Linked DNA regions of Homo sapiens: region 1 is linked to region 2. The links come from fine-mapping of genetic effects on gene expression. A gene starts in region 2. The other region holds a variant in brackets. All regions are shown on one strand. Distances are between the middles of the regions.

Region 1 (5,381 bases), 37 kb before region 2:
TGCATTTTTCTTTCTTCTTTTATTTTTTTTTGAGACGGAATTTTGCTCTTGTTGCCCGGGCTGGAGTGCAATGGCGCAATCTTGGCTCATTGCAACCTCCGCCTCCCGGGTTCAAGTGATTCTCCTGCCTCAGCCTCCCGAGTAGCTGGGACTACAGGCATGCGCCACCACCCCTGGCTAATTTTGTATTTTTAGTAGAGGCAGAGTTTCACCATGTTGGTCAAGCTGGTCTCAAACTCCTGACCTCAGGTGATCCACCCACCTTGGCCTCCCAAAGTGCTGGGATTACAGGCATGAGCCACCGCACCCAGCCCCTCTCTCTGCTTTTTTGGAGGTGCCTCCATGGTCTCTCTGTGTTCGCTATCTGGTTTAGGGAAGATCTGCCTGCTGGGTACTCCTTTTCCTGCTGTTTACCCTGTGTGAGTTCCTGTGACCCCGGGTGACTTGAGGCCCCTTTTGCCCCTGGCAGATGGAAAGTGACGTGGCTACTTTGACAGATCTCTGGCTTTTTGCATTTTTTTTTTAAAGTCCTTACATATCCTATGACCACCTTTTCTTTTCTGTTTTTTTAAAAGGAGTTCCAGGCTGGAGTGCAGTGATGCGATCTCTGCTCACTGCAACCTCCGCCTCCCTGGTTGAAGCGATTCTCCTGCCTCAGCCTCCCCGGTAGCTGGGACTGCAGGCATATGCCACCACGCCTGGATAATTTTTGTATTTTTATTAGAGACGAGGTTTCATCACGTTGGCCAGGCTGGTCTTGAATTCCTGGCCTCAAGTGATCCACCCCCCTCGGCCTCCCAAAGTGCTGGGATTACAGGCGTGAGCCACGGTGCCCGGCCCCATGAACACCTTTTCTGATAAGCCCACCTCCTCCTACCCTGACCCAACTGCCTGAGCCTACAGACCACCTTCTCGGAGTATGACCATACCTTAACCCACTTCTCTGACTGAAACCGCGCCCCGTGGAAAGCATCATTTCTGACTGCAATCATTACCCTAACAAACAGTTGTGATGTTGCCACCCTCACTCTAGAGATGTTCTCTGGGTGTGAATTGAAGTCACATCAATGCCTATGGTTGTATTCTAACACCTCAGACGCCACCCACTCTTGTTGGGGCACTGACCCTAACCACAGGCTCTTCGTGCTTCCTCAACCCCTGCTACACTTGGAGTTTAATCTTCACACCCTCGTGGCCCGGGCCCTCCCTCTGTCTGTCCCCGCTTCCCCTTGGGCTGTCACCAGTCAGGCACAGCAGCTGTTGTCTGAAGTTGGACCCTTTACACCTGTCTGGGCAACTTGCAGGATTTCCGAGTTCCCTACAATGGAAGGAGAACTGATTCTCTGAGGCCTGGGGACGTGGAGATGGGGATAGAGTTCAAACTCCAACAACTTTGGTGTGACCCCTCGGGTCAGGGGTGCTCCTGATCTCTAGGACAGACAGAAGGGGAGCTGTGTAGACACCAGGACGTCCCAAACGCAGGGCTATTTGTTAGTACTCAGTGAGGCACTGGTGAAATAGTAAGAATGATTATCACATTTGCAGGATCAATGAGGTGAAGTGGACTGAATGGAAGACGCACGTCTCCTTCCTTAACGAAGACCCGGGGCCTGTAAGACGAACAGGTACTGTCGCTGTGAGGTGACATGGTGTCCGCTCCTGTCTCAGACCATGTAACCTTGGGCAGATCAAGTCTAAGGGTCCTGACTTTCCCCATCTGTCAAATGGGAGGGTTGAATGGAAATGCTTCTTAGGTCTCTTCCAGCTCTGACTTTTAGAACCCTAGTTGGCACAACTTTTAAAATGGCGTAGCCCTAAGCCATAGAAACACATCATGCAGGCCGGGCGCGGTGGCTCGTGCCTGTAATCCCAGCACTTTGGGAGGACGAGTCGGGTGAATCACCTGAGGTCAGGAGTTTGAGACCAGCCTGGCCAACATGGTGACACCTTGTCTCTACTAAAGATACAAAAATTAGCCGAACGTGGTGGCAGGTGCCTATAATCCCAGCTACTCGAGAGGCTGAGTCAGGAGAATTGCTTGAACCTGGGAGGTGGAGGTTGCAGTGAGCTGAGATCACACCACTGCACTGCAGCCTGGGTGACAAGAGGGAAACTCCATCTCAAAAAAGAAAAAAAAGAAAAAGAAAAAAGAAACACACTATGCAGAGTGATATATTTCTAAAATATATATTTTTTTAAAAAGCAGATTTCAACAAAATCCAAGATTCTTCCAGGAACAACAGCAAAACCACTCTCAATGCATTTGAAGAAGTCGAGGAATTCCCGGAAACCTCGGTGTAGAAGCGGAACCCAGAGCTGGTGTGCGCGTGCGCTGTCTGGCGCTGCAGGCGGAGTCACCGACTCTGTGCAGAGAGGCTTTGAGGGATGGTGGAGTCCGGCTCTGCTGGCCTAGAAGCAGAGTGCACCCTCGTGCTCAGTGCTCAGTGGGTGTCTGAACTGAGGGGCAGTTGTCAATTTGTCTGAGTGGGAAACATCCTGGATTTTGTTACTTGGCAAACAGCTGGTGTAAACCTACAGCCAGCAGCAGTCTGGAGCCTGGGAGCCTCCTGAAGTCCCGGGTGAAGCCTCTGGTTTTACCAATTGCAGGTCGGCTTGGCTGGGAGAGATGGATGGCGGGAAAGGGGCAGCAGTCTTGAGGAGCAGGGAGAGGAGTCTTTCCTCCTGCCAGCTTCCCCCGTCAGCCCCAACCCCAGCCCACACATTGTACCATCTCTTCTGCTGTGACTGGGTTGCCTGAATTTGTGGGAGACCCGTGATCCCATCCCAGAGTGTGCGGGGGACGGAGGTAAGCTGGATATCCTGGGGGAGGAGGGGAATGCGCTCTGGAAACACCCTTCCGGAACCCTTCGGGGAAAAGGAGACCATCCTTGGAGTGAACGTCCCCTGACACCCCAAGGTTCAAACTGTCTCAAGCTGAGAGATGTTTTTAGTAGCAGAATTAACACAGGGTTTTAACTTGCAATACGGAAAAGACATTTCAGTTGAGAATGAAAATTACTACAATGAAGTTTGTGATTTTAAAAGTGGAGACAGACTGGGGGCTTTGGGGCTGGATGTAAGTATTATATATTTGGCCTCAGGGTGCCCAGAGCAAGACAAAAAGCTTTTCTTCACACACACAAAAGTCTGCATGAGACACTCCGGGCAAGTCCTGCTGGGCCGCCGCGATCTGGGTGAAAGG[T/G]CCTGGCTCTTTTCCTCGTCCTGACCTCACAGTAGCGCGTGCCTGTGTGCTGGGATCGTGGCTTTCGCTGAAGCAGAAATAGCAGCTGCTCGATCGATATCATCTTGGAACTCAGCAGTTAGTCGCATACCTCAGTATGTCTCAGTGGGGGAATTTAACAAAATGCCTCAACTGCTTTGGTACGAAGTATTTTTTTTTTAATTTTAACTGTGAATTTTGAAGCTGAAGGGGAAGCTTGTGAGAGAAAAGCATTTGCCAAGACTTTGAGCTTATTTTTAGGTCCTCGTCCTCTGATGTTCTCTTTCTGAAATGACACGGAGTCAGTCTGGGGGGCAGAGGTGAAGTGGAGACGGAAGGATTTTCCAGGTGACTGGGGCCGAAACCACCAGAAAATCCACTCTGCCGCCGTTATCTGGTGAAAGGATTCATGTAAAAATGTTCGAGGTGGAATTATAAAAATAGTAACCATAAATGTTAATCTTAAATGGCAGAAATAGAAATTTGGCCTTCAGATAACATGGCGATAGATAAGTTCATCTGGCTTGAGGCAAACTGAAGAGTCGGGGCCTAGCAGTGCACTCTGGGCCAGTTTCTCTGCCCTGGGCCACTCTGTGTGCCAGACTAGCTGGACAGATAGAGACTTTGTGCCCCTGATGGGGCCGATTGGGGAGAGGTGGGCTGGGGTGTGTGAGGCTTCACAATCCACAGCAGCCCCTGCCCTCCCAGCTGACCCAGGGAGTAATCGCGTGCTCTAAGCCACAGTGGTCGGGGCTGGGCATGGGCCTCTGGAGAAGAGAAGATTTGAGGAGAACTGTCCTAGAGGCAGGAGGAGCAGATGTGTTTCAGAATGGGCAGAATTAGGAAATTGAGAAAGATTTTGGCTCAACAGAATCCAGCAACTGCTCCAGATGTTGGAGATGTTTAAGCAGAAGCTGGTTGCGCACTTAATGAGGAATGTTGTTGAAAATGGTCATTGGAAGAAGTTTAAGGTCCCTTTTAGCCTGGAGATTGTACAAATCAGCATTCCACATCTGGAGTTAGCTACCCGCATTAAGCCTGAACAGACATCTTGGTCTGAAAGGAAGTGGTTTGGATTCATGATGCCAAGCTCCACACTATGGAGCTGGGAATTCCAGAATTGCTTTGACTCAGATATTAATGGAGAAAGTCATATCCATTAATGGATAAAGCCGTATCTGTTATGGATAAAGCCGTATCCAGAGTTGCTTTGACTCGGATGTTAATGGATAAAGCCAATTATTGATTTCTATTTGCCTAACCTGCCAGCTTTTGTCCAAGTGGGGAATGGAGAGCCATAGGGATGTTTGTCATCTCACATGTTTTGGTGATCTGCTGTCTGTGGGTCTGGATGGAATTTGTTGGCAAGACCATTTTCTGTATTGGATATTCTTCCCAACAGTGTCCACCCCAAAAGGCTTTCAGCCAAAACGTCTGAGCCTAGGTAGGTTTACCAAGGGAAGCCATAAGTCAAGAAGCATCAGAGTGAAAAGGAGCACTTCCTTCATTTTACGCCCAGAGGCTAATGCTCCGAGAGGAATGTGTACTTGGGCAAAGTCATGCAGGAAGGTCATATCAGAGCTGTGGAGGCTGGAGTGTCCTGATTCTTGGACCACAGATGTCTCCCTGAGCCATTATTTATTTATTTTTAAAAAGCACAGTTATTCCATCATTTTGAGTCTTTGTATTTCGCTTATATTGGGGGGCAGGACTATTTTCTCAGGTGTCTCATTTGGCAGTCAACATTGTCCCCTATGTTCCCTATGACTAGTTGAAAATTCAAGTGTGCCCACAGGGGTGCACAAAACCACACCCATGCACACACACACCCTCAGCCCCCACACACACCCCGTTGAACCCGTGGGTCTATCAGGACATCCTAAAACTCCGTGATTGACATTTCAGTAATTTCAGGGGAAGGTGTTTTCCAGGGATGGGGTCTCCCAGGTTCAGATAGTGCCTTTGGCTGCAAATGCTCCTTTAGCTAAACTTTTCCTCAGGAAGAATTCATTATTCTAGACATTATGTGATATATCTGTTAGGAATAAAAGGTGCTTAACCTTCCTCCCTGGGATGTGGGAGAAGGTGCTGGAGGTTGTACTGTGAAGTCTTCAGGCTCTTAGAAGGCTCCAGCCTGAGAGAGCCCTTTATTATTGACATT
Region 2 (5,381 bases):
GCAAGTCTGGATGCAGAGAGACCCTTTAGGAGGCTATTCTAACTGTCCACAGAGGAAATCAACTAAGGTAGTAAAACTGGAGAGGAAGGCTGGATTTGTGAAGTACTTGCAAGGAATAATTGGGAGGACTTAGTGACCCACTAGACGTGGGAGACAAAGGACTGGGAAGGTTCTAGGGTGATTTTCACAGGGGACTTGGTGGATAATGATGCCACCACTGAGATGAGGAATATAGGAAAATGAATAAATTTGGGAGAGGCAGGATGGGAGAAGTTAATTAGTTTATCTATTTTATAATTTTTCAACCACGCTGGGAACAGTCTAGTCTCTGAACAGTGTTAACAGTAAGGAGCAGAAAGTGAATTTAAGTGAAAAGACTGTGCTCACTGAAATGCATACTACTGGGTGCTCATAAACTCACCCCAGTCCATTTCACACCTATTTGGGAAGTTAATATGCCGACTAAAAGTTATCCTTCAACAAATTCTTACTTGTAATATAGAAGTTAGTTAACAGCTCTCTTAGGTCAATAGATAAGCATGAATTGTGTTGACATAACCTCAGTCATGAAGATAAAGCATTTCTCAAATTAAAATTTATGCTAGTAAAAATATGATTTGATACAAACAGGATGACTGCAGTATAATTGCCCTGAAAAACATCTATTCCATAAAGTGAGGCATGTTTCTATTAAGAGTAGTGTCCATGTTTTGATCTGTGTTGAGACTAAACCTAAGGAGTGATCTAACTCAAATTAGAGTTGATCAGAAAACAAGCACATAGAACAGTGGCTAGTTGTGCCTGTGCATATCTTATATATATATATATTTTTTTTTTTGAGACGGAGTCTCGCTCTGTCACCCAGGCTGGAGTGCAGTGGCACCATCTCTGCTCACTGCAAGCTCCGCCTCCCAGGTTCACGCCATTCTCCTGCCTCAGTCTCCCGAATAGCTGGGACTACAGGTGCCCGCCACCATGCCCGGCTAATTTTTTGTATTTTTTTTAGTAGAGACGGGGTTTTACCGTGTTAGCCAGGATGGTCTTGATCTCCTGACCTCATGATCTGCCTGCCTCAGCCTCCCAAAGTGTTGGGATTACAGGTGTGAGCCACTGTGCCCGGCCATGTATCTTATATCTTAGCTAGTAGTCTACCAACTCCTTGAGGGGTAGAAACCAAGTTGTATAGAGCTGTGTACTCCCCCAGTACCTGGCACAGTTTCCTGAGAAAAACAGATGTTTCAGAATATTTTTTAGTAAAAGAAAAAAAGCGGCCCAGCGCGGTGGCTCATGCCTATAATCCCAGCACTTTGGGAGGCTGAGGCAGGCAGATCACCTGAGGCCAGGAGTTTGAGACCAGCCTGGCCAACATGGAGAAACCCCGTCTCTACTAAAAATACAAAAAATTACCCGGACATGGTGGCAAGTGCCTGTAATCCCAGCTACTCGGGAGGTTGAGGCAGGAGAATCACTTTAACCCGGAGGTGGAGGCTGCAGTGAGCTGAGATTGCACCATTGCACTCCAGACTGGGCAACAAGAGCGAAACTCCATCTCAAAAAGAGAAAGAAAGAAAGAAGTGGTAAAAAGCAAATATGTGGAGTCATATTATATCCACAGTGGTAGCTATTATGATGTAAACGAAGGCAAAAATAATTAATAAGGACCTAACCTAGCATGTTATGACTGCTTACGTTGTATGCAATATATTACAAATCAGCAAAATATAAGCTCTGAAAATTCAGATGGTGTCTTTAGTTCTCATCTCTGGTATCCCATCTACAACAATCCACCATGGAAGTTAAGTACGTCTGCTACTTCGGATCACAGGGAGGTCTGATGTCTTTATTTTTATTTATTTATTTATTTTTTTGAGACGGAGTCTTGCTCTGTCTCCCAGGCTGGAGTGCAGTGGCACAATCTTGGCTCACTGCAAGCTCCGCCTCCCGGGTTCACGCCATTCTCCTGCCTCAGCCTCCCAAGTAGCTGGGACTACAGGCACCCGCCACTACGCCCGGCTAATTTTTTGTATTTTTAGTAGAGATGGGGTTTCACTGCATTAGCCAGGATGGTCTCGATCTCCTGACCTCGTGATCCGCCTGCCTCGGCCTCCCAAAGTGTCTGATGTCTTCTGACAAAAGATATTTAATCACGCTTTCATTCAACAAATATTACTTGAAACATTACATTTTTTGAACTAGAACTTTATGCATTACCGTAAGCATAGTTGCTTGAAAACGTAGTGAATTTCCTAAAAAGCTAACAATTTTATATGCAAGCATAGTGGCCAAACACTAACTCAATGCAAAGGAGTATTAAATCTGTTTCTTTAAAGGTATGATTTTAAAACAAAACCCTTTTCTATTTATTGTCTCAGTCTGTATACATTTGAAAAGAAAACTTAATAATCTGGTGCTTAAGAAGGTTTATAAAAGAGCATGTGAATGCCCAGTTTAGATAATTGTGCAATTCACAATGCAGTATAATTAAAAGTGAAAGTGATCTTATTCAACATACGACTGCATGTACGGACATGAATTATCATCTGCATATACATATATGTGTTCTCTTTCACACACCTACCACTTTTCACACAACATACATACATATACAATACAAAGCATAGTCTTACCCAAGATTTTCAAGGTCAAAAATGCGATTCAGGTCACAGTCAATATATCTGGTACACTTCTTCACTGCTCTGGGGTTAGTAATAAATGGTTTTACCTCCAGCCCTGTTCTCTGAATCTCAGCGCCATTCTCTAGCCAATGCTTAACCAGAAATACTCCGGTTAGCTCATTCCCATGGGTTCCTCCAAAGATAGCAACCTTTTGTATATGTTCTTCAGCAATGTGACAAGAAGTCATTTCACCAAGTAGTTTTTATCTGATTTCTGCAATTCAGAAGAGAGATCAAAGGAAATTCGATTTTCTTAAGAAAGGTTTAGAAATGTAAATGAGACTTTACCCAAAGGGCAAAGTACAGAATTCCCTTGAGTGGAGTATATTTTAATTTTCTGTTACAAGTTCTGAGCCCCGTTTATGGACACTCCCTTCTTTAGCCCTGCCCTTTGCCATATTTGGATTAAAATATGCAAAGATCAACTAGAGATACAGCTGTTTACTTTAACTTCTAACTCCCTCAGATGGTCAGTAGATCTAAATACAGTAATAAATTAGCATTTCATACTAATACAAAAATTCCATTCTTTTCCTCAGCTAGGATGTCATCCAGTGAGGCTTTCACAATTATCTGTAATAATAAAAATAGTTTATACGTTTCTAATTTCACAAAATAAAAAAGTGGCCCACTCAGTATTTCCACGGGCATTTCAAAACATTTCTTCTCTGAAATGAGTTCAAGCACTTTTCATGATCTGAGGGCATTTGAATCTCACCTCTATAAACAGCCAAAGGCTGACCCTCAGAGACCTCCTCTTGAACCGGCGCCCATTCTTTCAGAATGCTTTTTCACAATCAGAAACAGAAGGGCCAAATCAATGATCACTTGGGACTCGAAAAGCTACCCTGAAACATCCCTTCATTTCTTTCTCATGAGGTTTTTGGTAATTCTGTGTTAACTTACTTATGAATCTTCCTCATTTTTTGCCTAAATACCAAAGGAAAGACAACTGTTAGTACTTTTCAAGTTTTTGTGATGCCTGAAAATGTCTTGGGACACACTGCATGTGCTAACCACATCATGTGAACTTACATAGACACAGCCTTATTCACTGTCAGCGGGGACTCTCCACTGGACTGTGTTACTCAAAAAGGGGTCTTATTAGGGGAAATTTTCCAGAATACTAAGATGATTACATCCCTTTGGAGAAATGACTCTGAGCCAAATCTGATTTGATTTCATGCTCAGTCACCCAGAAAGTCACATATGTTCAAGTACTGGGAATACCATGTACTAGTAACGCCAGGTTGTTTGATAGAGGGTACAATAAGAGTAATTTATTACAATTGCAGAGTTTAATTTATAATGTCCTTTCACTCAGTTTATTCATACATTAATTTTATACGATAGGGTGGGTTAGGTGTTGACATCCCCACTGCAGGGGTAAACGAAAGAGAGGTTAAGTAACTCAGTTAAGGTTCTGCAGGGATGTAGGAGAACCTAGGCCTGAGACCCATGTTTCTCATCCCAAGTCTAGTGTTTTTCACAGGACAATAGGGTGCCTCTCTGTTATTTTTGGTCTTCTTCACAGTTCTAGTTTTGCTCTTTCAGAATTCACATAAACAGCCATTACAGTGTGCTCAGGAAACAAACATGCATACAAACCAAATACATGGTGGAAAAATAAAATATGAATGCTTCCTAATATTTAATAAACCCACTGAATGTTCTTCCTTTAAGAGCTTATAATGCAGAGATAGAGAAAGCAAAATAACCACATCAAATCTATGCATTAAAATGACTGTTCTAATAGAAAAAAAAAGCTCCTGTAGGCTTTGACTGTCTGTCCACATCCATGTACACTGAACACTTCAGACGGTGTAGAGATGATGAAAACACACGTAAAAGTAAACAGATGACAGTTGTTTAGTTGCTTTGGTTTTAAGAGCAGTAACCATGGTGAATTATTAACACTCTACTATGCTTGGTTTCTTTTCTGCTGATTTGTAGTTTGTTCTGTCCTTTGCCCTAGTCTCTCTGGAAATGCTGCTTCAGTTATTTACTCGTAGCTGGCACAAATGACTTGCATTTTGAAGCTTGTTTTATGGAATTTTAACAGATCAGCACTTTGAAGCACATTTCACATTCATAAATAAAGTTTCTCTTACATGTCAAAATGAATAACTTTTTTGAGAGTTAATGAATTGCAGCAATTATTTCCCATACTTACCTTGTTTTTTGTGTACAGAGTTTGTCTTCTGTGGAAAGCTTTATTAGGAAAAAGGAGAGCATTTCCTCAGAAGTAGAGCAACAGAGGCTTTTCATACTCTTATACCAAGTTAACTTCCGAAAGATTTTTAACTCCCTGTTTCCCAAAGTGTACTTGATTTTTGGGATGACCCAAAAAACCACACTTTTTTATTAGTTCTCAGCGAACTGATAGTATACGAAGTGAAACCCTTTCGAATTGTCACTATCTCATTATTAAGTTGAATATATAATATTCTGAAGTACTTAAAAGAGTAAGCATAACTTCCAGCATTACAAATGTTTTGTGGGATAGAGTTGCCTGATGTATTAATAAAATAATGTAGTTTAAAACAAAAGGATGCCAGGTGTGGTCTCATGCTTGTAATCCCAGCACTTTGGGAGGCCGAGGTGGGCGGATCACCTAAGGTCAGGAGTTCGAGACCATCCTGGCCAACATGGTGAAACCCCGTCTCTACTAAAAATACAAAATTACCTGGGCGTGGTGGCGGGTGC

Alleles and levels. Alleles are on the strand shown, and positions count from the first base shown. SD is a standard deviation of normalised expression in the study named.
With allele G in place of T in region 1, the expression in adrenal gland of the gene that starts at base 3,026 in region 2 is lower (moderate effect, 0.51 SD a copy in GTEx).

The links. PIP is the estimated chance that this variant, and not a neighbour inherited with it, causes the effect.
Region 1: its variant is fine-mapped to the expression of ASPA in adrenal gland (GTEx, PIP above 0.99).

Annotation. Positions count from the first base shown.
Region 1 is chr17:3,510,837-3,516,217 of GRCh38, reverse strand. It overlaps TRPV3 (transient receptor potential cation channel subfamily V member 3), which reads left to right. Exons shown (of 18, transcript NM_145068.4): 17 at 1,546-1,625; 18 at 2,207-5,381. The coding sequence ends at 2,301. It also overlaps a transcript of SPATA22 not described here. Among named protein-coding and RNA genes, the nearest start is that of ASPA, 38 kb to the right of the region's middle. The variant T/G (reference allele first, on the strand shown) is at 3,203.
Region 2 is chr17:3,473,642-3,479,022 of GRCh38, reverse strand. ASPA (aspartoacylase) reads right to left here and starts at 3,026. Exons shown (of 6, transcript NM_000049.4): 1 at 2,628-3,026. The coding sequence starts at 2,863. It also overlaps a transcript of SPATA22 not described here.